Linked DNA regions of Homo sapiens: region 1 is linked to region 2. Evidence: fine-mapped expression QTL. A gene starts in region 2. The other region holds a variant in brackets. All regions are shown on one strand. Distances are between the middles of the regions. Region 1 overlaps PTER (phosphotriesterase related). Region 2 holds the start of PTER (phosphotriesterase related).

The links. PIP is the estimated chance that this variant, and not a neighbour inherited with it, causes the effect.
Region 1: its variant is fine-mapped to the expression of PTER in whole blood (INTERVAL, PIP 0.96).

What each region holds. Positions count from the first base shown.
Region 1 is chr10:16,505,493-16,518,329 of GRCh38, forward strand. It overlaps PTER (phosphotriesterase related), which reads left to right. Exons shown (of 5, transcript NM_001261836.2): 5 at 5,554-8,253. The coding sequence ends at 5,764. It overlaps C1QL3 (complement C1q like 3), which reads right to left. Exons shown (of 2, transcript NM_001010908.2): 2 at 8,242-9,215. The coding sequence ends at 9,036. Among named protein-coding and RNA genes, the nearest start is that of C1QL3, 10 kb to the right of the region's middle. The variant A/G (reference allele first, on the strand shown) is at 6,714.
Region 2 is chr10:16,431,653-16,444,489 of GRCh38, forward strand. PTER (phosphotriesterase related) reads left to right here and starts at 5,358. Exons shown (of 5, transcript NM_001261836.2): 1 at 5,358-5,395. RefSeq lists a silencer at 5,233-5,282 and enhancers at 5,703-5,882, 5,903-5,952.

The sequences.
Region 1 (12,837 bases), 74 kb after region 2:
CTGTTCCTCTCTCAGGTTGACCACACTAAAGCCATAACTTCCTACAAGTAATATTTGAAATGCTTTATCAAAAGTTTTCATTAAAAAGGTGATTTCAAGTTAAATGCTAAAAGTATAAGGTCTAAAGACTAAATATTATGTAAAATGAATGCAACCTTCCAAAACTGTATAATGTGTGATGCTGGCAGATAATTGTAGGAGTCATTCTTTGTAATCAAGTAGAAAATTTTAGGCGTCAATGATAGCTACCTAGTTTGGTCTTGGTCACATGGTGATAAGAAGATTGAATGAACCAAGTTAGAATACCTAGGAGGAGAAATAAATTGGAGATTGACAAGGAAGGCTTTCGTTTGGGAATATCTAAGTGTTGCTACCCAGTGAAGCCCTAAGATATGGTTTGTATGTGATAGTTGAACCGTGGGAATGAATGACATCACTCAGAGAAGAAGATGAGGACAGAGACCTGGGGACAGAGACATTTAAGGAATGGAGTAGGAACCGTTTCTCAAGGAAAGGTCGAGGAGAAGTTTTCAAAGTGATAACATGAGAGATATATATTCTTATGGAAGTCAGTAGAGAGGAAGTCTCAGGGCAGAAGGGCTTGAATGCCGGTAATAAGTGACAAATATCAAGGGAAATAAAGACTGAAAAGCATCCATTGGATTTCACAATTAGGAGGCTCACATTTTATAAACAGAGTGCAATCTCAGTGGAAAAGGCTTGAGAAATGGGTGGGCCGTGAGGAAGAGGAGAGAGGATGTTGAGGTGACTCTTTCAAGAAGCGTGGCAGTGGAGGGAAGCAAGGAGATGGGTCTGGAGTTACAAGTCAATAAAGGATCAAGGGAAGCTTCTAGTAAGAGTTGAGCAATGTTTATGTGACTTAAGAGCAAAAGCAGAGACAGAGCCAGAGAGAATGAGTCCAGGGAAGTGGTGCCCATTCCACAGGGTTACTATAGAATTGACATGAAATAATGTTTTCCAAGTTTTTGTCTGAGTGTCTGGTGCAGAATATGGAAGTGTTCAATAGATGTTGACTTTAAAAACTCTGGATAGATAAGAAATATAGAGCAAGGTTCCTAAGGCAACAAATAGATGGAATCTGGGGAACAAATAGAAAGTCGGTTGAAAGGATGCTTTCTCCATGGAAATGAGAGGGCATGACACAGCGATGGGGTGAATGCAAACAGAAGTCTTAGTGAGGGAAACAGGAGACTGAGGACACATGGCCACATGTCCTCTAGTGTCTCTGTGAGGTGGACATGGTTATCTCCTGAGAAAAAAAGAGTGGATTTAGGGCAGCACTGTGTAGAGCAGGAGAAAGGCTAGGAATGGCTGTCAGGTCAATGAGAGAGATCTTGACATGGATGTGTTATGTGCGAGACCTAGTTGAGTCTAGAAATCATGATTGCATGCCTGTGTATTGGCACCAATGCACACGATTTGGTGATTATTTTCCAAAGCAAAACTGTTTTGCGTTTTGGTAGTGGAACCAGAGAAGTTGTGTGCGTACAAGCAGAAAATGGGAACAGTTCAAGAGATTGAGGGTTGGGATTCTATCTGAAAGAGATGGATAACAATGGAGGAGTTGAGATGAGGGTCATGGGATCCAAGTTGGAGGGAAGAAAGCATAGAGAGGAATGGTCAGATAGACAGGAAAAGCATAGCAGGGCAAATAAGTGGACTGCAGGCTTTAATGAAGTGGGTGGAGCATATATATATATATATATATGTTCAAATATATATACTGTATGTGTATGTGTATATATATATGTGTGTGTGTATATATATACACAGTAGAAGAAGTGAGTGGAAAAAGTAGAAAAATGTAACATGATCGGAGTGGGAAACTGAAGATGGAGATTTCAGAGGGGGAGCAGTAGTTCCCTATGATAACAAGAACTAGAATATAATTATGAGAACAGAAAAGTGGTTGCCGTGGAAGTAGCAAAGCTGGAATTGAGAAGTGATGTCCAGGAACCATGAGATTCAAGTATTGCTAGTTGAATAAGGCACACTGGGTTGAGGGGAAGATCTTGAGCCAGTGGTCATAGTTGGGACATCCTGAGGATCTTTCCCTGGGAAGTCACATTTACGTCTGTATGCCTTCTGCTGTCTCCAAGTACTGGCATTCTGCCTTGATCACCTCATTAATAGTACTATGCTTCAAGTTTAGTATCATTAGGGAAAGCTAGTTAATCAGTGTTGCATTAGTTAAGTAAGATGGCAACTCTCAACTCTACATGAGCAAATGACTTCACCTGTCTTGACCAATGAAGTTCTGTCTTTTAATACTCAGATCAGTTATTTGACAAGTAGATGTATTGTTTCTTTGTTTATTTTTGTTTTATTATTTTAATTTACTTGCCCAGGAACCCGATTCAATACAGGTGAACCTGTTCCCCTAAAGCCCTAGTAGTTAGTTTATACTCAGAGGAGACTATTCCTTGCCTAAGGGCATCTGGAATTTAAAATAGTGCAGTGCATTCAGTCATTCTCATCTTTCACAATCTCAAAAACATGATTTCCTGATCAATGCCCTCAACATATGTTTTATTTCTTTTTTCTTTTTTTCTTTTTCTTTTTTTTTTTTTTTTGAGATGGAGACTTGCTCTGTCGCCCAGGCAGGAGCGCAGTGGCGCAATCTCACCTCACTGCAAGCTCTGCCTCCCAGGTTCACGCCATTCTCCTACCTCAGCCTCCCGAGTAGCTGGGACTACAGGCACCCGCCACCACGCCCGGCTAATTTTTTGTATTTTTAGTAGAGACGGGGTTTCACCGTGTTAGCCAGGATGGTCTTGATCTCCTGACCTCGTGATCCGCCCGCCTCGGCCTCCTAAAGTGCTGGGATTACATGTGTGAGCCACCGCGCCCGGCCTCAACACATGTTTTCTAAATCATCTTGGAAATGGGAACTTTGCACTCTGGATCGGCTTCCTTTTCCGAAGCCCCTTTGTGGTAGTGAGGTGCATCTTTTGCACACCTGTGTCTCGCATGAGGCTCCCAGACCTTCTAGAACAAGAGAAAGAAGATCCGTAAAGGGGCATCTGTGAAGGAGATAGAAGGGTCAGATGACCGATGGCTCCCCCAGCATTCCTTCTTAGCTCCTTTTAGCCATTTGTTTACCCTTTACTGTGCTAAATATAGCTATTCTGGATGTATGGAAATAATAAAAATTATTATAATATAAATCTGTGTATATATATATAAAATACCTGTGTGCTATTCCATACGTACGTGTATGTGTGTGTGCTTAATCTTCCTTAAATTAAACCATGCATTCTCGCTTGACCCAAGGACAGCCCATGTTAAGCACTGAATGCCCTTTTGGGTTGCGTGTGCTCCAGTACCCACTGTCTTGCACACTTGATTTTCATCATGCATGAAAGGACCACAGGGTCCTTTTCTGAGCCATCGTAGTCTTAAACCTTGAAGTGCATGAACACAGAAGCACGCTTCTGCCTACCTCTGGTGTTCAGCACCAGAAATTCTGTGTCTAACACCTGTTTTCAATCTTCTGCTCCATTTCTCAAATCTTATTATATCTCTGCCTTTTCACACTTTGTAGTCTCTCTCTAATATTTGTTTGCAAACACTAACTCATTTGTATTTCTATAATTACCGTGATTTTTTGTCTTCTCGTCTGTAGTGGCTCCCCCTTTTCTGGCAGCATCTCTGTAACTCCTGTTCTTCCATATAATGGCACAACAGGAGAGATGATCTTTTAGTGTAAGCAGGACGGGGCAGGTTTTCTTCATAGTCAGGATATGATTGTGTGTCCAGAGCCATAACGTTATCTTTCTCATAAGTAGTCTCCAGATTCTTGACTTAATGGGTTCTAAGGATTCCCGGTTTTAAGTATGAGTATCTTGTCCTCTATACTCTTTCATTCTACTTCATGATTTGATAACATTGTGTTTCAAGGTCTGACAAAGGACATCTTAAAGGAATTTGTTTATCCACATGATCTGCCTTTATAGTGTGAGAAATTATATTTATCAGATAAGAAACATAGGCAAAAATTTTGGAAAATGCCCAGAAAATATCAGGGAGAAAGTGTTTCCTAAAACCTCCTATACCGTGATACTTCTTTGCAGTTGTGGATCAAGGTTTGTCACCCTAAGCTTCAGTATTGTGTGTGCATTCTGTCAAATCTTTGTCTTTTTATGTGATAATATAACTTATCTTAGATAATTCCCCTAAACTGAGTGTGTTCCAAAAGTAACTGCAGATCAGAACTTCAGGATAGTATACAAATTTCAATGAGGCAAAAAATCATAGTGGCACAAAAGTCATTACATGCACTTATAGGACAGGCATGGTTCTTCTCTGCTAGTGCTTGCATTCCTTTGACCTGCAGATACAAAGTCTATTCTTCCATTATAATTTATTTTAAAATATGTGTTCTCAGAGGGCAGGGCTTTGTGCTTGAGTTTTTTTTGTGTGTGTAGTACCCCACGTTTTGCTCACTGTAGTAGTTATTAAATATGACTCATGTACTAGGACACCAAGAAATGCTTTTGAAACAAAAAAGATACCTTTCAAATAATCAGCCTCTGGAGGAAGGCACTGTCCGTCCGTCTAGATCCACTTTAGAATCTAGACGCCAAAAAAACTATTCAGAGAATCCCATAGAAGAGCCATTGTCTGTGAGTGGCATCTTCTACCATCAAAGACCCATGGAAGTCACGACAGACACTGCCCAGAGTCCAGACACGTACAGATGGTGGCTGTCAGGAGGTGACTCACACTACAGATTCCAGCATTTAACAAAGCAAAGAGGATTTCATTTTTAGAGAATAGTCAGGAAGCTGTTCTTTAGTCCACTGACTATAAATTTAAAGGAACAGCTTATTATTTTAGCAATCTTGCTGACATGGAAAGAAGACAGAATATATTTGTATTGGTCAGTTTAATCCAATGCTCAGAGGCTACAACTAAATCAAAATTGCCATAGACTTCAAAGGGGCAAATGGTTAAAATGCTGACCAACCTTTTTTCAGTGGCTTTGTAGCTTATCAAATGCCCCTCACTTGCAGACCAACTGATTTTGCTCTCAGAATATTTTACTTGTAGTGAGATTCCTTTTGTTTCCCTATTTTAATCGCAAACAGTCCTTGATATTTTTTGGCCAGATAAAAGGAGAGAGCAAGAATGAGATCTGAAAAATGGGCCCACAGGGAGAGGCATTTGAGAGAGGATTGCTGAATACAAATCCAGAACAAAGTTATTTAGTGAAATGCCAAAATGGTCATTCATCCAAACTGGCACATCCTATTAGAAGCTATCTTTAATGCGGTATTGCCAGGCATGGTCATAAATGTCACAGGTTAGAAATTTCTGTATGCATGGAATAAGGATATGTTCCTGCTAGGATGCAGCAATATTTTTATCGTCACCACACAATATTTATTAAAGGTCTCTCAGTACACACGCCACAGTAGAAGTCAGTATCTTTACGACAAGCACAATAGGTTAATGAGTAAAAAGTTGAAAGCATCCTGAAAAGCGAAAATGAAAGACAAATGACATCTAATGAGTTAACATTTTTCACAGGGTGCGTCTCCTGGTGGAAGAGGGCTGTGAAGATCGAATTCTGGTAGCACATGACATACATACGAAAACCCGGCTGATGAAATATGGAGGTCACGGCTATTCTCATATACTCACCAATGTTGTTCCTAAAATGTTGCTGAGAGGCATAACTGAGAATGTGCTTGATAAGATTCTAATAGAGAACCCTAAGCAATGGCTAACTTTCAAATAGGATGGTTGCTTATGAATTCACACCTTGAGTATAAAACTTGCAGAGAACATTCAGCGATTTCCAGTCCACTGTGAGATATTAATCAGTTACCTAGGACTAATGACAGATCATTTCCTTCTGATGAGAACTAGGAGGGTTTGCCTTCTCTGAGACCAGCTATTACAACTGTGCCTCTAGGGAGTTACTCAGCCTAATTGAGCCCTATTATTTTAACTTAACAAAATAAATACAGAAGTACCTATTTCTAAACAATGATTTAAAGTCTATATCCCCTAAGCGGAGTTGTTGTTTTTCTCCCTAATCTATCAGCTGCACTACTTGAGAAAATTTAAAGTGTTTCTAGTTAAATTATTTCCTTCTTGAGCGATCTAATGTTTCTTGTAATATTGATGATCCTACTAATTATCCTGCTGTTCTTTAATTAATGCTTAATGAATAATATGGCACTGTAAAATAGCTTCTGCAACAAGGGAAGTTAAATTTTGAGACTTTTTTCCCCAAAGGATACTGACTGTAATACAATTACCAATTCACAATGATAAAAATATTTTGAAAGGTTAATTTTATACTGTCCACCTATCTATATATTCTTCTACTGAAATGATTTTGATATCTTTGGCTTTCCGGTATCTATTTTTGCCATACATTTTGCTGTTTTGCAAAGTTTGTATAAGAACACATAACACTACTGAATTATAAAAATTCAATCATAAAAGTCAAAATATATTACATAATATAGTTTAATGAATCATTACATTTATAATAACAAAGGCCACAATTTAATTAATTGGTAAGATATAATGCAAAAAAAAAAAGAGAAATGTTTGCCTTATGTATATTCCCTTTATTTCCTTTACCTTTTGTTTTTCCTTGGACCTAAACAGAGAAAATAATGCTTATGTATCTGAAGAAAAGGTCAGATCTATTGGAAATGACAGCCCGATACTTG[A/G]GCCTCCTCTTTAAAAGGTATCCAGCCCTGATATTTTGTGTAAATAAAATGTTTTTAAAACCTGTTAGTTAAAACACTTAGGTGATGGGCACTGCTGCTTATAAATTCATCTTTTGGTTGAATCCTCACTATGCTATTTGGTACCTAAAAATATTCTCCAAACCCTTGCTGCCAGTTCCTCTTTGATAAATATATAGTTAATTCGAAATAAAATCCATTGCAATTCATTTATGAGTTATCTTACATATCACAAAGACCAATTAGAATTAGTCATTATTCTTGATGAAGAGTCTGTTTTTAATCATAAAAATCATGACAGTTACTCAGACCCAGGCATTTCAACAGAGCTAACACCACCTTCAGATAGGCACACCATGCATAACTCTTGGGAAGTTGAGCTTTGCTAAATAAAAGATATTTCTGCTGATCAAAGATGATCAAGCTTTCTGTGTATTGGAACAGAAAGTAACAAAGAGGAATGAGCCAGGAGAACAAACTAATTCCTTTAAATAAATAAAAAAAAAAAATGCAAATGTCCTTCACCAGTAAAGCAAGCAAATTTTTAAAATCTCTGTTTTTGAAATCTACTCGTCAAAGAGTTTTCAGAGGCAATGAAAGGGGAACAGATTTTTCATTGTAATAGTGGAAGTTGTGTGATAGTTAGGAGATATCAACATGCATTTTTAATCTTTTCCTTAGATGAAAGAGATGGCTTTTGGCAGTGTGTTCTAACCAGAAAGAAAGGATTTGTATTACTCTCCAAATCTACTGTACTGTCAGCTTCACTCCACCTGAGAAAAAAGAAAAAAAAATTGATAGCTCAAATGCATGTAATTCATAAACACTGCAAAGGAGAGCCACTTGGTGTCTGCAGTCCTCATATTAACAGTCTGTCACAGAATGCAGTTAAAGTATTGATTGGCATATGGTAATAGAGCAACCATAGCCTTAACTTACAGACCTGTGAAATAAAGGGCATTTTGACCTAATACAATTAATTTTCTGGATAACTCTTAAAGAGAAGTCATTTTAACTGTTTTTGCTACTCCATATATTGTCATTCAAAATATATTTTAACCCAAAATAAGTTAAATAATTTGTGCATGTTTGTGTGTGTATATATGCATACACTTTTTTATATTAAAATTTTGAGGCTATACAGCCACTGTGCCCTGTGGAATAAAGCCATATATATAAATGTTTTATATGTATATGTTTTATACATAAATAAAACATTTCATCTAATATATATATGTGTGTGTGAGTATATGTGTGCATGTTTAGCAGATATTTGTATAAAATATAAACACTCTGTTGTCATATAGGCTATATGCGAAATTGTTAATTTTAAAATAACCTCAGGCCACAGACTTGTAGTAATCATTTGAAGGCCTCACCTAGTGTCCCCTTGGTGACGTATGCAGCAGCTCAAATTAAACCTTTGTGCATTGGGTTATGAATAATCTTTTCTTCCAAAGATGGCAAAAGCCTCGGTTTGATTTGATACTAAAGAATAAATTTCTCTGACTTTCCCAGTGAATCTAAATGTATTCAGTTGACAAAATGGACACATAAGGGCTTTTTCTAAATACCGTACATAATTACACATTTTCACACTTAGAGGGTAATCCTATGATACACTGTCAATCTCTATTTTTAAAGACTATCACCAGAAAAGAGAGAAAAGAAAATTCATATAAGAAAAAGAAAATGTGAAAAAGATCATAGGCTTGGGAATTCCCTCAAATCCAGAAAATTCCAGGTTAAGGCTTGAAGTTGAATCATTCCCAGGTCTAGCTCTAAGGTTAACAAGAGTACAAGGCAAACAATTTCTTTGGGGACAAGCAGCATTATTTCAATTAGACCTTCTCCTGCAGGGCAAAAATCATTCTTCCCCACACTATGAATGGACTCCAAGTATCATAATAAGCAGGTAAACTCACAAGAACCAAAGCTGACATATGGATAAAAGCAGCAAGATCACAGTACACCAAAGTATCATATATATAGAAGAAATAATTCAATGTCTTAGATTTGTCTATAAAAATTTGTGATCTATATAGGACTTCATTCACATGGACACTAACGATAAGGAGTATTTGCTTTGGCGGTAGTGGATCACACATCTGCTTATCTTGCTTTGATATTTTTTACATAATGTTTCTGAGTGATACAGATGTGAGTCAGGTAGCATTTGATTTCCCCACATATACACAACTGAGGTGCCCTGCCATTGGCATCCCCTGGGATCCTTGATTCACTGACGTTAGCCATACGAATCCAGTGTTCAAACTCAGAATAATAAGCTTAGTTTCTGCATTATCAGTCAGCATAAATAATAAATCCAGAAAACGTGCTGTATTTGTTGTTGTTTCCTCCATGGGCTTTCCCGCCATCTAATTTGATATAGACTTCATCTCCCGGCTCCAAATGAAGAACCACACTGTTACTGGCATAGTCGTAATTCTGATCAGCATCTTGGGCAATTGCACTAGCACGCACCTATGTGAAACAGACAAGAATTAGGATGCGTAAATGAGAATTCTCAAGTTTTCTTTTTTGCCATTCATGTAGCATCACAAGCTGACTTGCTGCCATAGTACAGAATTTAGCATAGCAAAGTCCATGTTGACCTCAGAGCTTTATGAGGATAGTGCTGTGGCAGTTTCCGCTACGTTAGTGAGAAGGAGGACAGAAAGGGACAAAATAGTGCTTCAGTGGGGACCATTCTGGCAGTCTTATCTAACTACACATTCTAAACTATGCATACAATTTATTATCTTCCTGTATCACTCGTTTTTCTAACTCCTTCGATCCCTATGCCCAATCACATTTTGAAATGAAACTAATAGTATTTTTTGCATTTTAATTTAAGCCAGATAGCAATATTCTAATCAGCTGTTTATGAGTACAGAAGTTCAAGTCTAAGTTCAGCTGTTCACCACAATTATTAGAAAATTGAGGTATGTAATAGCTAAAAATACCCAGGAAAATACCAACTCCTCTACTACTTACAAAGAAAAAAAAAAAAAAGAAAAAGTCTTTTGATTTAGGGCTTTCCAAATCTAATTCATGTAAAGCCCCCTTTACCAGGCTGCTTCAGAAGCTTAGCTCATTTATACATCTTTGATTATATCACCTGAGTTTTCAGAGTTCTTTTTTCCATCGTGTCTTTTTATTACTTAACTATGACATGTGCATTTAAATCAAGAATTTAACCTCAACATATCTAAAAGTTAAAGAAAGGACTAAATTTTCATGCTCTGAGGCCTCTCAAGTTTCAAGAATTTTTGAATGATTTCGTTGAATATCCACTTACACTTAGGAGATTCTAAATATGTGGCTTGATTTGAGGGCAGAGGCTGCTTATAATCTGCCCATGGTAAGCCTGTGATCTCATTAGTGAGTTGATAGACATTTACAAACAGTCAAATTGCCTATCATCTCATGCATTGTGGACATTCTGTCAGATCCTTAGCTCAAATTAGGCTTCATATTCATTTAGATATATTGTGATTCTGCCTTGGAAAATCTTTCAACAGGCAGACTTAGATTTGATTTATTTCAGTAAAACATCTTCTACTTTGTGGCTTGTTTCATTTCTATTCCACTATAATGATATTTCCCTGAATAACATAGCAAGTGATTTAGTGGTTTTGTAAACCTGCACTATGTAATAATGCATGATTTGGGGTACAATATGCTGGATTTTATCACTTGGCAAAATGAGAGAAATGAGACAGAAGTCAAGAATTTCCATGCATTTCTTTCAAAATTTAAATGATGAGTTTTCCAATTAAATTTTCTTGTGATATAGTCTCACGTTAATGCTGAAATGTTAAAAAAAGAAGACTCTTTAACACTGCTGAACTTGTAAAGTCATTTGAGTAGTATCTTTAAAGTGTCTTTCTGGGTATCACATAGCAAAAGGAGAAAATGGCTTAAAGGATTTAGAATTGCTTAACGCTGTACTAACAGGCACTAATATAATGAAAGCAATATACCATGTAATTATGCTTGGAAGCACTGACTCCAATATATATGCCAATTTAGTAAAGTGGTCCGTTTTGACCATTAAATAATGACGCAGTTTGACTTCATAATATTTTCTAAAGATTAATCATGAGTTTGTAGGAGTTGAATGCTTTGATTCATTAATTTCATCTAGCCATTAATTCCCAGGGAAACAAATCTACAAGAAGGATATTGCTATTATGACTTGTGTTTTTTTCTCATCTTTGGATTTTTAATGGTGAAAAAAATTAAAAACAAAATATTCATGAGCTATATTAGTAATACATTAGTTATCAACCCATAATATACTCCTCAGCTATTACTAATAACCAGACATATTTTATTCAGTGCTTTGGGTATTTAGGACATGTTCTATGGTTACTGGGCTTTAACATGGTTTTCTACATGAAGGTATTGGAGAAACAGGACATACTAAAATTACTTGATTTAGACACAATAATCCTTTTAAAAATATAATGCCATTTTTATTCTCCAGGGTGTAACCACAAAACCGAGTGAACGTCACCATTTTTATTCAGTAGGCGTAACCACAAATTCCTGCGAATGCATTAGAGTGATTCCACAGACTGAAAGGTTACCCTCACAGTTTCTACCACCTTTGTTGGATCAAGCCAGTGTGGTTGCTTTTTAATGAATGTAATTCTGTAAGATTTTAACCTATACTGTACCGTAAGACTGTCCCAATTAAATAATTGCCATACTCCAGTGTACCTGGCATGATTTTGGTATGGCTGCTCACCTGATCCTACTCTAAAGATATAACAGGACTTGAAATTTCAAGCTCTAGTATTCAGCTCAGTGACTTCAACAATTCTTTCAAGCCATCAAACTATTGAGGAAGGCAATGTGTTCACCCTGGAGGCTGTTTCCAGATTCCTAAATGTACAGTGATTTCAGCATTCTGTCTGGGAATAAGATCCATCCTTCCTTCAGCGCAATCAACCGATTTCTACCTGAATTTACTCTAATATCTTTTCTTATTACAAGATAACTATTTAGATTCTGCTTTATGTTTAGTCCGTATTTCTTTAACCCTAAAAAGATTATGAATTTGACATGTCATTGATCTCTCTAATAAGCGAATACCAACCCACAAACCACTCATCCTTTTAAAAATATTTCATGGGCATCGGTGCCATAACTAATAAATTTTTAAGAGTACCAACTGGTCTTTAATTATTTTATGCTTTTAATCCTGAAACAGTATTAGTTTTCATTCGAGTGGCTTATTTATTATAGTGGCATTAGAGTGATTGTATTCAAATAGCAATTTTTCTTCATGTTTTCTGCTAAAAGGATTATCAACATTAAAGAGATTTCCTCTTTCCAAATGTAAAGCTATTTGAGTTGAACTTTTACCTTTAATATGCACTGTCATGGGCTTTCAACAAATGGTAGGATTAAATTTAGGTTGATGGCTTCATGGGGAGTATGAGAGCTGCGGTCATTTTAGGGATATGTTTCTGTGTCTGCAATAGGTTTCATAGTTTTAGCATTATCTTATTAGTGAGGATCTATCATTAGAGATCATATTTATGGTGACATTTGTAATTTAATTAATTGCTACTGATGTTCTCGTAATTTCATTTTCATTGTACTTCTGTGGAATCATAAACAAAAGGTTAAGTGGCACATCAGGTTAATTTACTGGTCTTTGATGTTTCCATCTGTGATCTTACATTCTACACAAAGTATAAATAAAATGGCTCTCATATGGTTACAGTCCAGAAGCATTTCTCTCTCTTAGAGGGAACTGCATTTTTAGTTTAATTTTTGTGCTTCTCAAAATCCACTTAATCCATAGAACATTACACTGACATGGATCTCTGAGTTTCTGTTTTATGAAAAATTAAGTCAGCTCAGAGAGGGAACCTGCCATTCTAAGAAGTGATCAGACCAGAATATAATTGAAAAGCAAGAGTGAAGTATTATTTAAAATTAATAAAAAGATTTTAAAAGATTTCTCATTTGTAACTGCCTGCAGACTGGACTTGACAAAATAGTTCTAATCTAGAGATAAAATTCCTTAACTGTAGTAGTGTAGTAACCATTTTCCAAAATAGTCCACACTGAACTAAAAAAAAATGTT
Region 2 (12,837 bases):
AGAGATCGAGACCATCCTGGCCCACATGGTGAAACCCCCGTCTCTACTAAAAATACAAAAATTAGCTGGGCATGGTGGTGCATGCCTGTAGTCCCAGCTACTCAGGAGGCTGAGCAGGAAAATCACTTGAACCCGGGAGGCGGAGGTTGCAGTGAGCCGATACTGCCCTCCAGCCTGGCGACAGAGAGAGACTCCATCTCAAAAAAAAAAAAAAAAAGATCTAGAATGATTTAAATTTCACTTTTCCTTTGCTTCTAAGTGAAGTAATAATATACATTGAATACTTAGTTGTATTTTCTGGGGGGTACAAAGAATAGGAATTTGATAGAAAACGATCTGTGTGTTCAAAGTTCTGTTCTAGTTCTCTTGTGACATTAGTATCTAATAGGTGTCCTATAAATGATAGGAATGGCTTATCACACCATGACTCAAAATTAAACCAAGAAAATCTCTGCAGCACTGTAAATTTCAGCTTCCAATTAACAATTAAAACCTAACAGCAACATCATTGATAGAATTGACATCATAGGTCCTGCTTTTTTTTCCTGCTGCTTATCTGATAATTATCTGGATTATTTTCTATTTTGCCCTCCCCAGATTGTTTCTGTAGACTACTTTTGTGTAAATATTTAAAACAACTAACTAGGGTGATGAAAACCTGGGTGTTTTCTAGAATTTTAACCCAAATAGCAGGGGCTTTGGATGTTTGCTTTTGATTTCGTTCTTTTTGCCAATTTAGTGTTCCCGGGTACAGGTACTGTCAAAATTCAAAGATACTATGAAAAGGAAAAGCAAGTACTGTAGAAATGAGAGTGCATTTGAACTAAACCTTTAACTGAGAGATCGATTTGGAAACTCGGTTCCTTAATAATGTGATTTTCAACTTTGCTACTTCATCACAGACATACGACAGTACATTGATATTCTTGGTTTCAAAAATTATTTCCAAGTTAAGCTTCTCTAGGAAGAAAGACTGAAAAATAAAGTTGGGCACAAGCTTGATGCCAGATTATCATGTTTAACAGCAGAACATCCTCAAGAACCCTTTTCACCCATTCTTGTCTGCCTATCCCAGGGCTAGTAGATTTTGAGTCCGGTAGTGAAGAATGTTTATTTTACTTTCTAAAAGATTCAGTAGCATTTAGTGTTTAACTAACAACAGTGCTTAGTGAAATAGGATTACAGTATGTACACAGGTGCTATATGCTAAAAAGTTTTCCATTCTTGTGCATTGGATTTACATGATTTTCTCCACTGTTCTTTGTTTGTTTGTGTTTGTTTGTTTTTGTTTTTGCTTTTTGAGATGGAGTCTCGCTGTACCTCCCAGGCTGGAGTGCAGTGGCACGATCTCGGCTCACTGCAATCTCCACCTCCCAGGTTTAATCTATTTTCCTGCCTCAGCCTCCTGAGTAGCTGAGACTACAGGTGCACGGCATGACCTTTGGCTAATTTTTGTTTTGTTTTGTTTTGTTTTTTGAGATGGAGTTTCGCTCTGTTGCCCAGCCTGGAGTGCAGTGGCGTGATCTTGGCGCAATACATCCTCTGCCTCCCGGGTTTAAGCAATTCTCTGCCTTAGCCTCCCGAGTAGCTGGGATTACAGGCACCCACCACCACACCTAGCTAGTTTTGTGTGTGTGGGTGTGTGTGTGTATGTTTTTTAGTAGAGACAGGGTTTCACCATCTTGGCCAGGCTGATCTGGAACTCCTGACCTTGTGATGCACCCGTCTCGGCCTCCCAAAATGCTGGGATTACAGGCATGAGCCACTGCACCTGGCCTGTTTTTTTTGTTTGTTTGTTTTTTTAGGGAAGATAGGTTTTCACCATGTTGGCCAGGCTGGTCTCAAACTCCTGGCCTCAAGGGATCTGCTACCCTGGCCTCCCAAATTGTTGGGATTACAGACGTGAGCCACAACACCTGGCCTCTGCCTTTCTTTGAACACACCTGTAGGCAATAGTTTGAGAAAGTTCCTGAAATAAATCTCCTGCATATTAATTTGAAATTTCTTTGTAGCTGCTTCTTTCAAAAAAGAAATAAAATCTCTTTACTAGTATCTTTTTAAGGAGTAAAGCCACAGAAATAAGAGCGTGCATTTGAAATCCATCACAAATCTTGCTCAGTGGATTTACTGTGGGCAGTGGAGAATTTAGTAACTTCCATAAAGAAAAACTAAAGTTTACTTTTCAATTTTTTTTTTTTTTGAGACAGGGTCTCTCTCTGTCACTAGGTTGAAGTGCACTGGCATGATCTCAGCTCACTGCAATCTCCACCTCCCAGGTTCAAGCAATTCTCATGCCTCAGCCTCCTGAGTGGCTGGGACTACGGGCATGCACCACCACACCCGGCTAATTTTTGTATTTTTAGTAGAGATGGGGTTTTACCATGTTGGCCAGGCTGGTCTCCAATTCCTGGCCTCAAGTGATCTGCCCACCTTGGCCTCCCAAAGTGGTGGGACTACAGGCGTGAGCCACTGCGCCTGGCCTGAAGTCATTTTTTAACAAGGACCTCATGTATCATTTAACATCTAGCAGCATAGACTACTAAAATACGTAACATTATAAATAATGGACTTTCGAGCCTCTCCTTACCACCCACTGTCGGGTACACATTTATATGGCTCCATGCTTGTAGCACACACAAAGTGGGAGCCAGCACTGAAATCACTCCAGAAGCCTCCCTGGATCCATCTCCTCATTACAGAATCTCAGTGTGAGCCCGTCATTGCTACTAATATCCAACTGTCCCAGCACTCATGCCTCTGCAGTTCTTAACCCCTACAGTTATTCTTGTCTTTCCTACTCTTGGGCCCTATTTTTATCCCTTTTCTGTTTCTAGGATTTACCCAGCCACCCTCCTTAAGAACCAATTTTTTCCTCAGTATCTTCTCCCTGACTGTCCCTTACCAACCAACCCCTTTTCTAAATGACTTCTTGTACTTTTACCCTTAAAAAACAAAAAACAGAGAACGAGACCTGTATATCCTTTTCTCCTCCTTTTTTTCTGATTTAAATGAATTAATTTATTTCTATTAATCTCCTATCAAAGCACCCCATTCTCTCCTGGTGCGGTGGCTCACGCCTGTAATCCCAGCACTTTGGGAGGTCAAGGCAGGTGGATCAGTTGAGGTCAGGAGTTCGAGACCAACCTGGCCAGCATGGCAAAACCTCATGTCTACTAAAATTACACAAAATTAGCTGAGCATGGTGGGGCGTGCCTGTAATCCCAGCTACTCAGGAGGCTGAGGCAGGAGAATCCCTTGAAACCAGGAGGTGGAGGCTGCAGTGAGGTGAGATTGCACCACTGCACTCCAGCCTGGGCAACAGAGCAAGACTCTGTCTCAAAAACAAACAAACAAACAAACCAAAAAAATTCCCCATTCTTTACTAAGAAGGCAAGTGTAGTGACTGATATCAACTAATCTGGGTCCCTAGTCCTATCCTTGAACAAGGTGCTTGCCTAAGTTTGTTTTCTTGTCTGTAATTGGAGGGAAATAGCTCCTGCCACATGCAGGTTGCTCAAAATCTTAAACAAAATAACATACACCCATTACAAAACCTGGTAGAGTTGGCCCCGATAAACATCATCTATTAATATTATTATTAAAACTCTACTTTCCTTTGAAATGACATCTGTAGCTTCTGCCCATCTGCATACCTATTCTCTTTTTTCTCAGAATTCAGGATAAAATTAATTGACTAGGCCTTGTGCTGTGGCTTATGCATGTAGTCCTAACACTTTGGGAGGCTGAGGTGGGAGGATCCTTTGAGCTTAGGAGTTTGAGACCAGGCTGGGCATCATAGCGAGACCTCCATCTCTACAAAAATTACAAATATTAGCTGAGTGTGGTGGTGCACACCTGTAGTCCCAGCTGCTCAGGAGGCTGAGGCAGGAGGATCCCTTGAGCCCAGGAGTTCAAGGCTGCAGTGAGCTATGACTGCACCACTGAAATCCATCCTGGGCAACAGAGCCATTTCAAAATAATAATAATAATAATTGATGACAGTGTAATATGGTTGGGGTTCAGAAAATGATACCCCAAAATGAAGGCCTTAGAAGCAGCTCTCTCTAACCTCATGTCCTCCTGCCTCTGGCCCCTCATTCTAGAAACTGGAATCCCTCTTCCCCAAGGTGATTCACAGAAGCCAGAACCCCTCATCCCCAAAGCCAAGCATAAAACCTAAAAGTTTGACTCTGCGTGTCCCCTGCCTTTCTGTGTCAAAACTGGCGGTAAAGAAATTCTCTGCCCTGCTTTGTTTGACTGTAGGTCATAAGACCCCCATTCCAGAAAGGATCCTGCTCTATACCCAGAAGGAAGGAACACTGCACAGAAAAGCCAAAAAGAATCTAAACAGACAGGGCTTGCTCACTTAGTCTATTGGCATTAGCTCAGACCCTTTTTATGCCATCGTAGTATCTCTTAGGTTGGTGCAGAAGTAATTGCGGTTTTTGCCATTAAAAACCGCAATTACTTTTGCACCAGCTGAATACATGGCGGTCCATACTTTATTGAACCTAAGCGAAAAAATGGACCGTTTCCCCTGCATCTTTGGGTTTTCATTCTGAAGGCTCCCGGATCACATAAAGTTACGATCTAGTATATTTGTATGCCTTTTCTACTGTGAAACTGTCTTTTGTCAGTTGATTTTCAGCAAACTTTCAGAGGACGAAGGAGAGGTTTGCCCTTGGCCCCCTACAATACCTAAAGGTATGACTCTTTACTGTGGCAGCTGCTCCAAGCATCATGTTTTGCCAACAGACTCACACATACTAAGTTTATTTCAGTCACAGCAAGTACCAGGGCCAGTTCAAGTGCTCTAGCACGGCACTCTAATTCTAAAGAGAAGGAAACGCGGCACCGGGGCAGGAAACAGTGACAAGTGGGAACACAAAAACCAAAGTTCTCCGTATGCAGCATGAGGATCCAGAACCCACTGTGACATCAAATTGCCAGAGCACCACCTCCGATTTATTCTTGGGGAAAACCAAAAGAGCTACGGAATGCTCCCTTGTTCCAGACTGTTCTATGGAGAACTGGGATCTGGGGAAAATGCAACAGTTTCTTTCCGTTTGGGGATCTAGCCCCGAATTTTTTTCATTCAGCCAAACTACCGACAGTCAGACAGCGCCTGCAGGAGGGTGTGGCCAGGCAAAAACGCGGGGAACGGCCCCGGACCAGGGTGGGGCGTGGCAAGGGTTTGAAGGGCGTGTCCTACGAAGAGGTAGGGCTTGGCAAGGACCCACGGGGCGTGTCCTAGGACTCGGTGAGGGCGTGACCTCGGGCCAGGGGCGGGGAGAGAACCAGAGGGCGAAGTGGGAGGGCACAGGGGAGACTAAAAAGGCCAGGGAAGTTGGCCTGCCGGAAGTTCCCAGGGAGAAGGCAGCGCGTTGTACCCGAGGTAAGGCTTCTTGGAGTCAGAGCAGGAGCCGGAACTGTGGGCCCAGTAGGAAGAGTGGGGCCCGACGGCGGAGGCCGCGCGGCCAGGGTTCGCTGCAGAGCTCCACGCGAGGGTCCTGCCGGAAGGAAGGATTTTCTAGCCGCTGCGCTTGGGCCCTGCCGCCTCTCCTTAAGTGCTTGAGGGACGTTGCAAAGAGCGCCAGTCCCGTGTGGCGCCAGCTCCCTGTGGCTCGACAGCAATGCCCGGGGGCGTCATCGGGTAGCTGTGCTAAGCCTCCTTTAATAAGCTTTTTTTTTTTTTTTTTTTTAGATTCAGGGTCTGGCTCTGCTTCCCAGGCTAGAGTGCATTTGGCGCGATCACAGCTCACTGCAGCCTCGACCTCCTGAGCTCAAGCGAACTTCCTGCCTCAGCCTCCTGAGCTTCCTGAGTAGCTGCGACTACAGGCACGTGCCACCATGTCCGGTTATTTTTGTATTTTTTGTAGAGAGTGTCTCGCCATGTTGCCCAGGCTGGTTTCGAACTCCTGGGCTCAATCAGTCTGCTGCCTCGGCCTCCCAAAGTGCTGGCATTACAGGTCTATATTTTTTGACAGTTTATAAAAGCCAATTACCAGCGGTCATATGTCTGAGTCCTGTGCACTCTTGCTTAATCCACTCTGCAGCCCTGTGAAGGATTCTAGTGATAACGACAAAGCTAAGGTACAGAAAAATTAGGCCACACTGCTGGAAAGTTTAGAGATGGAAACAAAGTTTAGAGGTGGAGTCTTTCTGACTCCACAGCCAGTGTGCTGTTACTCTCTTAGACTACCTCATTCTTTGTACATCCCAAGTCAACAGGAACTAAAGGTATACCCTTACATAGGCAGTAAGAGGGGTTGCTGATTTAAAGAACTTTGGACCCAGAAAGAGTAGAGCCCTATTCTAGTTCTGGTTCCAGCTCAGTGACTTTCTACAAGTTGGTTTTCTTTTGCTTTTTTTAAAGACAGAGTCTCGCCCTTGCCCAGGCTGGAGTGCAGTGGTGCGATCTCGGCTCACTGCAACCTCCGCCTCCCGGGATCAAGCGATTCTCTTGCCTCAGCCTTCTGAGTGGCTGGGACTACAGGCGCGCTCCACCACACACAGCTAATTTTTGTATTTTTAGTAGAGACGGGGTTTCACCATACTGGCCAGGCTGATCTCGAACTCCTGACCTTGTGATTCACCCACCTCGGCCTCCTAAAGTGCTGGGATTACAGGCGTAAGCCACCGCGCCCGGCCTCTTGCTTTTTAAGACTAGGTCTCATTATTTCACCAAAGCTGGAGTGCAGTGGTGCTATCACAGCTCACTGCAACCTTCACTTCCCCCGTTCAAGTGATCCTCCCAGCTCAGTCTCCCACAGGTGCACACCACCACGCCCGGCTAGTTTTTATTTTCTGTTTTTTGTTTTTTTTTTTGTATTTTTGGTAGAGACGGGGTTTTGCCATTTTGTCCAGGTTGGTGTCAAACTCCTGGGCTCAAATGATCTGGCTGCCTCGGCCTCCCAAAGTGCTAGGATTACAGGCGTGAGCCACTGCGCCTGGCCTGCCTGTTTTCTAGACACATTAAGGTGAGTGGTCTCAGGCCAGGCGCGGTGGCTCACACCTGTAATCCCGGCACTTTGGGAGGCTGAGGCAGGTGGATCACTTGAGGCCAGGAGTTCGAGACCAGCCTGGCCAACATGTGAAACCTCTTTTCTTCAAAAAATTAGCTGGGCATGGTGGTGGGCATGCCTGTAATCCCAGCTACTGGAGAGGCTGAGGCACGAGAATTGCTTGAACCTGGGAGGCAGAGGCGGCTGTGAGCTGAGATCACACCACTGCACTCCAGCCTGGGTGTCAGAGCAAGACTCTGTCTCAAAAAAAAAAAAAAAAAAGGTAAGTGGTCTCTAGGTCGCTAGTGGATGTAATAATCTATGGATTTATGAGGATAAGATCCTGATTTTACCATTTAATGATATTTTGGGCCAGTTTTTTTCCTTTTTAATTGGGCAGCCCTCAAACCAGAATAGATTGAGAGGGTCTTCCAGTTTTGGGTCATATTTGCTGCTGAAATTACAAGGTAGTCAGGAAGGGTCTGTTTATTCAATCAAAGATCAATAAATGTGTATTTTGGAGGTCAGTAGCGGAGTATCCAGCCAGAAGGTGGCTAGTGAGACAGGAGGAAAATCAGGACAGTGGCTTTTCTGGAGGGACTTAGGGAAAGATCAGTTTCACTGGGCAAATTTCCCCTTCCCTGTGAAGGACAGAAAATACCTTCAATATGGCTAAAGTGAGAAGCATTTCTGAAAAAAAATGCAATTTAATATCCTTTGAAGTGTCAGTAAATTTTGAGCCAAATAGAAGCAGAGAGTAAGAGAACACAAAAATAGATCATTTAGAATCTGGAGAAGTACATGACCGTGTACTCAGTGCCAGGACTTGGCCATAGGATCCCTGTGACTATTTTAAGTTGAGTAAGCAGCCCTGATGCAAGAATTTTAGAGATTGTCTCAGTTTTAAGCTTAAAGACAAAATGATGAACTGTATAGCATGAGAGGAGCTTGGTAAATGTCCACCTTTGCTTCCATGTGCAAAGTGTTCATACAGGACATACATACATACAGGACCCATTCATACAGGAGGAATGTTTATCCTTAAATATCTTCTTTTTAAAATATTTATTAGTTTATTTATTTTTGTAGAGATGGGGGGTCTTGTTTTGTTGCCCAGGCTGGTCTTAAACTCCTGGGCTCAAGTGATCTTCCCACCTCGGCCTCCCAAACTGTTGAGATTACAGGCGTGAGCCACGGCAGCCAGCCAACTTCAAATCTATTAAATGCCCTAGTAAGCCATATAGTAATAATATTGAGAATTTCTGATCAAGCTCGAGTCTGCTCAGTATCCCTATGAACTTGACTGAGGTAGTTGTTGAATATATTTTCATACATCAAATGTGGCTTTGTTCTGTTTTCTTTAGCTGTTGTTTCTAGTGTATTTTCAGTGGTCCAGGTTTTCCTAACAAGATTTTTTTTTTTTTTTTGTGGCAGGGTCTCACTCTATTGCCCAGACTGGAGTGCAGTGGCCCTATCTTGACTCACTGCAACCTCTGCCTCCCAGGTTTAAGTGATTCTCCTGCATCAGCCTCCCAACTAGCTGGAAATATAGGCATGCACCACCACGCCCAGCTAATTTTTTTGTATTTTTGGTAGAGACGGGGTTTCATCATGTTGATCAGGCTGCTCTTGAACTCCTGACCTCAGGTGATCCACCTGCCTCAGCCTCCCGGCATGAGCCACCACGCCCGGCCCTTAATAACACTTTTATAACAAAAGGCTTCTCATTCATAGACATCATCTCTTAAAAAAAAGAAAAAGAAAAAAGAATAAGAAAAATAAAATATCTGGTTCCATTTGGCATAAACTGGCTCTGTGGTTGTACCTATTTTGTCAAAACAATAACCACCTGAGTACAAATACCTCTGTGCCTGCTCAGCGTGAGAGCTGTGAATGTTAGCCATTTCCCTGTCTCCTTCCAGGCAGGTATGTCCACGTGACTTGTTTGGCTAACGAAACGCAAGTGGAGTGACCTGTGTCACTTCCAGGTAAAACTGTGTTAAAAGCCAGTGAAAGATTTGTCACAATCACTTTCCCTCTGCCGCAGTGACCATCCAGATAGAGGCAGTGGTCTCAGCCTGGGTCATAGAGGACAGTGAGCGGAGCCCCCTGCCTTCCTGTGTTAGACGTATTCGATGAGCTAGAAATAAACTTTTGTTGTGGTCAGACCCTGAGATTCGGGGATTTGAGTGTTACTGTGGCCTAGCCTGGTCAAGCCTGCGTAATGAATATTATCAGATAAGCTGCATGTATGCGGGGATTTCTGGCTCTGGTTTACCAGATACCTTGGGAGCTGTGGGGAGGGCCCTGAAAGAGGCTTGTCCTATGAATCATGCTCCTTTTACTGTGTGGGAGATGGCAGGTGTGCTGTTCCCATCATGCTCCAGTCTGCTTTGTGATTTTAATCAAGAGTGGCAAAAATGGCGTTTAGATGTTTAATTGCATTCTGTAAGGGCAGACCATGTTAAAGTGTAAAATAGGTAAAGGCTGTATGCCTGGAAGGGATAAGAATCAAGGCTTTCATTTTTACTTTGAAAAACACAATTTATATATTTTTAACAATTTTCAGTGCACTTCCAAGTTTTCCAATACAGAGGAATGTTCGTGGGTGAGTTGTGAAAAGATGATTCTTCCCAAATGCAGTTATCAGTGGATACATTTCAGAAATTATTTTGTCACTGAAGGACATTTGAAATGAATCATCCGTACTTACCATTGACTAATACGTTTTTTTTCAGGCAGCTTCAAAGAGTATTTTAAATATGATTTCCTGGCTATCTGATTTCGGATCTAAGAGTATCAGACTTAGGTTTTGCTGTTAATGTCCTAGGGGCAGTGTGTTCACTCTTTTATTCTGAGTTAAACAGAAGGCAAGCCGGGAGCATTGTGCTTTGGACAGAGCTGTGCTGCATTCTTAGGGGACACTGGCTATAAATCCAGTCTCCCTAGAGGTTAACAATCAAAGTTCTCCCCTTATTATAGTCAGGCGAGTGATATGATGATGATAAATTGCTTGGACGTGACTGGCCCAAGCACTAGTGTGATGAATTATGTTGTTCGGGGCATGACCGAAGATCTTCTATTGTCAGCTGGCAATGCTAAGTATTGGCAGTATTCATAAATAGCCTTTTGCCAATGGTGGTCTCTGCTTTACATATTAAATTCTCTGTTTTCACAGGTTGTGGTTCTTAGTCATCTGTGTCCTCCACTGAATTCACTTACATAATCAGCCTTTTTTTTTTTCCTGTTCCCTACTTATTAAACGGGTGGGATGTGCTCACTTGTGTATGGTAAACACTGAGTTCTTTCTTCACAGAAACTGTTAAAAGAGTAATTATTAGTTCTTTTTACTAAATCCAGAGTAATAGCAACTTATCTTGCAGTGGCTTAATTGGGTAATTATTTGGTGTGTGAAGAGCACTTTGAAGAGAATATTGGTAAATATTGTTAATTTCGTGCTCTTTTATGTAACTGAAAGCCCATTGCGACCACAAAATCCTTGGTGTTACTGTGTACCCACAAAATTTCTTTCCTGATGTGGCTTACTATTTTCCAAATTATTTGTTTGTTGATTTTTAAAAACATTTTTTAAATTTTCATAAATTCTCAAAGTTATCTCATGTTTATGCCTTGACAATTCGACATGTCTCATCTCCTACATTCTTGCATATCTGAAAGGTTAGATGTTATCAGTCTTGCTCTCTAACAGTTTGGAGGACAGATAAAGCCCGACCATGTAATTGAGAAATTGAAATAAAGATTTATTTGGTCAGAGCCCATGCCCTGAGCTGTCATCTGATTGCCATCAGAATTTGTTTAAAAGTGTTAGGTTGGCCATGCACGGTGGCTCATGCTGTAATCCCGGCACTTTGGGAGGCCAAGGCGGGAGGATTGCTTGAGCTCAGGAGTTCAAGACCAGCCTGGGCAACAGTGAGACTCCCATCTCTATTAAATAAGTAAATAAGAATTAGGTTGACTTGCATGTGCCTGGCCAGCTCTTTTGACAGATTTTCTTCTCACTTTATAAATTCAGAGCCTGCAGGCCAGGCGTGGTGTCTCATGCCTGTAATCCTAGCACTTTGGGAGACCAAGGCAGGCGGACCACTTGAGGTCAAGAGTTCGATACCAGCCTGGCCAACATGGCGAAACCCCATCTCTACTAAAAATACAAAAATTAGCCAGGCATACGTCTGTAAGTCCAGCTACTCAGGAGGTTGAGGCAGGAGAATCGCCTGAACCCGGGAGGCGAAGGTTGCAGTGAGCCAAGATTGTGCCACTGCATACCAGCCTGGGTGACAGAGTGATACTCTGTCTCAAAAACAATAAAAATAAGATGAAATAAAATGTAGAGCCCCCAGGTGTAATTAAGGGCCATTTCTGTAGCTTAGATTAGATGACCTTGATTACTCACTATGTTTGTCTTCCTAGGGCTGCCATCACAAAATACCACAAACTGGGTGGCTTTAACAACAGACATTTATTTTCTCACAGCTCTGGCAGCTGGAAGTCCCAGATCAAGGTGTCAGCAGTGTTGGCCTCTTCTGAGGTCTCTCTCTTTGGCTTGTGGATGGCCGTCTTCCCTTTTATGCATGTCTGGGTATTGATCTTTTATAGGGACACCAGTCCTATTGGATTGAGACCTACCCTAACAACCCCCTTTTAACTTAATTACTTCTGTAAAGACTATCTGCAAATACAACCACATCCTAAGGTGCTGAGGGTTCGGGCTGCAACAGACAAATTTTGCAGGGAGATACAACTGAGCCCAAAATGCTCCACTGCAATAGTAATGGTCTGTTTGGAAGCTACTGTTTTTGGAGTTATTTTCTTTGATTGTTAAATTTGACCTTCCAAGTGATGACTACACATCTTTGGAGAATCTCCTCAGTTCAGGAACTTCTTTTTAACTAACATTACTTGGAGGAGAGCTTAATGCTCGTGACTTTAAACATTTATGTAATTAGGTAAAAAGGGAAGCAACATTATTAAATGACTTGGATAGAGTTCATCAAGCAGTTAAGAAAAAAATGTACATAATCAAGCGTACCTTGCAGTCTGAATGACAAACATCCAAATATTTGCTGTAACAACTCGCACATATTTTTACCAAAAATTTCCTCTCCGAATCAGAAACTTACTATGATGAGTCCATGTACTTACGTGTACCATCAAAAAGGGCCAGAGGATCGCTAGAGTATGCTGTGGTCCTATCTGCTCTTTCTATAAAGTGGTATCTTGTGCTCATCTTGCTTAAATATGTTGTGTCTTACAATTATCACGATACTATCAACTGAAAACAGAAAGGTCTGTGAGAAAAGATGTGAGCCTAGGAAGCTAAAAACTTTTTCTTTTTTTTTTTTTTTTGAGATGGAGTCTCGCTCTGTTGCCATGCTGGAGTGCATTGGCGCGATCTCGGCTGACTGCAACCTCTGCCTCCCGAATTCAAGCGATTCTCCTGCCTCAGCCTCCCGAGTAGCTGGAACTATAGGCACGTGCCACCATGCCCAGCTAACTTTTATATTTTTAGTATATTTTCAGCATGTTGGCCGGGATGGTCTCAATCTCTTGACTCGTGATCTACCCGCCTCGGCCTCCCAAAGTGCTGGGATTACAGGCATGAACCACCGCACCCGGCCTCTTTTCTTTTTTTTGAGACGGTGTCTTGCTCTGTCACCCAGGCCGGAGTGTGGTGGTGATCATAGCTCACTTGAGCTTCTGGGCTAAAGCGATCCTCCTGAGTAGCTGGATTACAGGTGCTCAATACCTCAATACCACGCCTGGTTTTTTTTTTTTGGACAGAGGACCTACAGGGAACTTTATTCTCGTGCTTTTG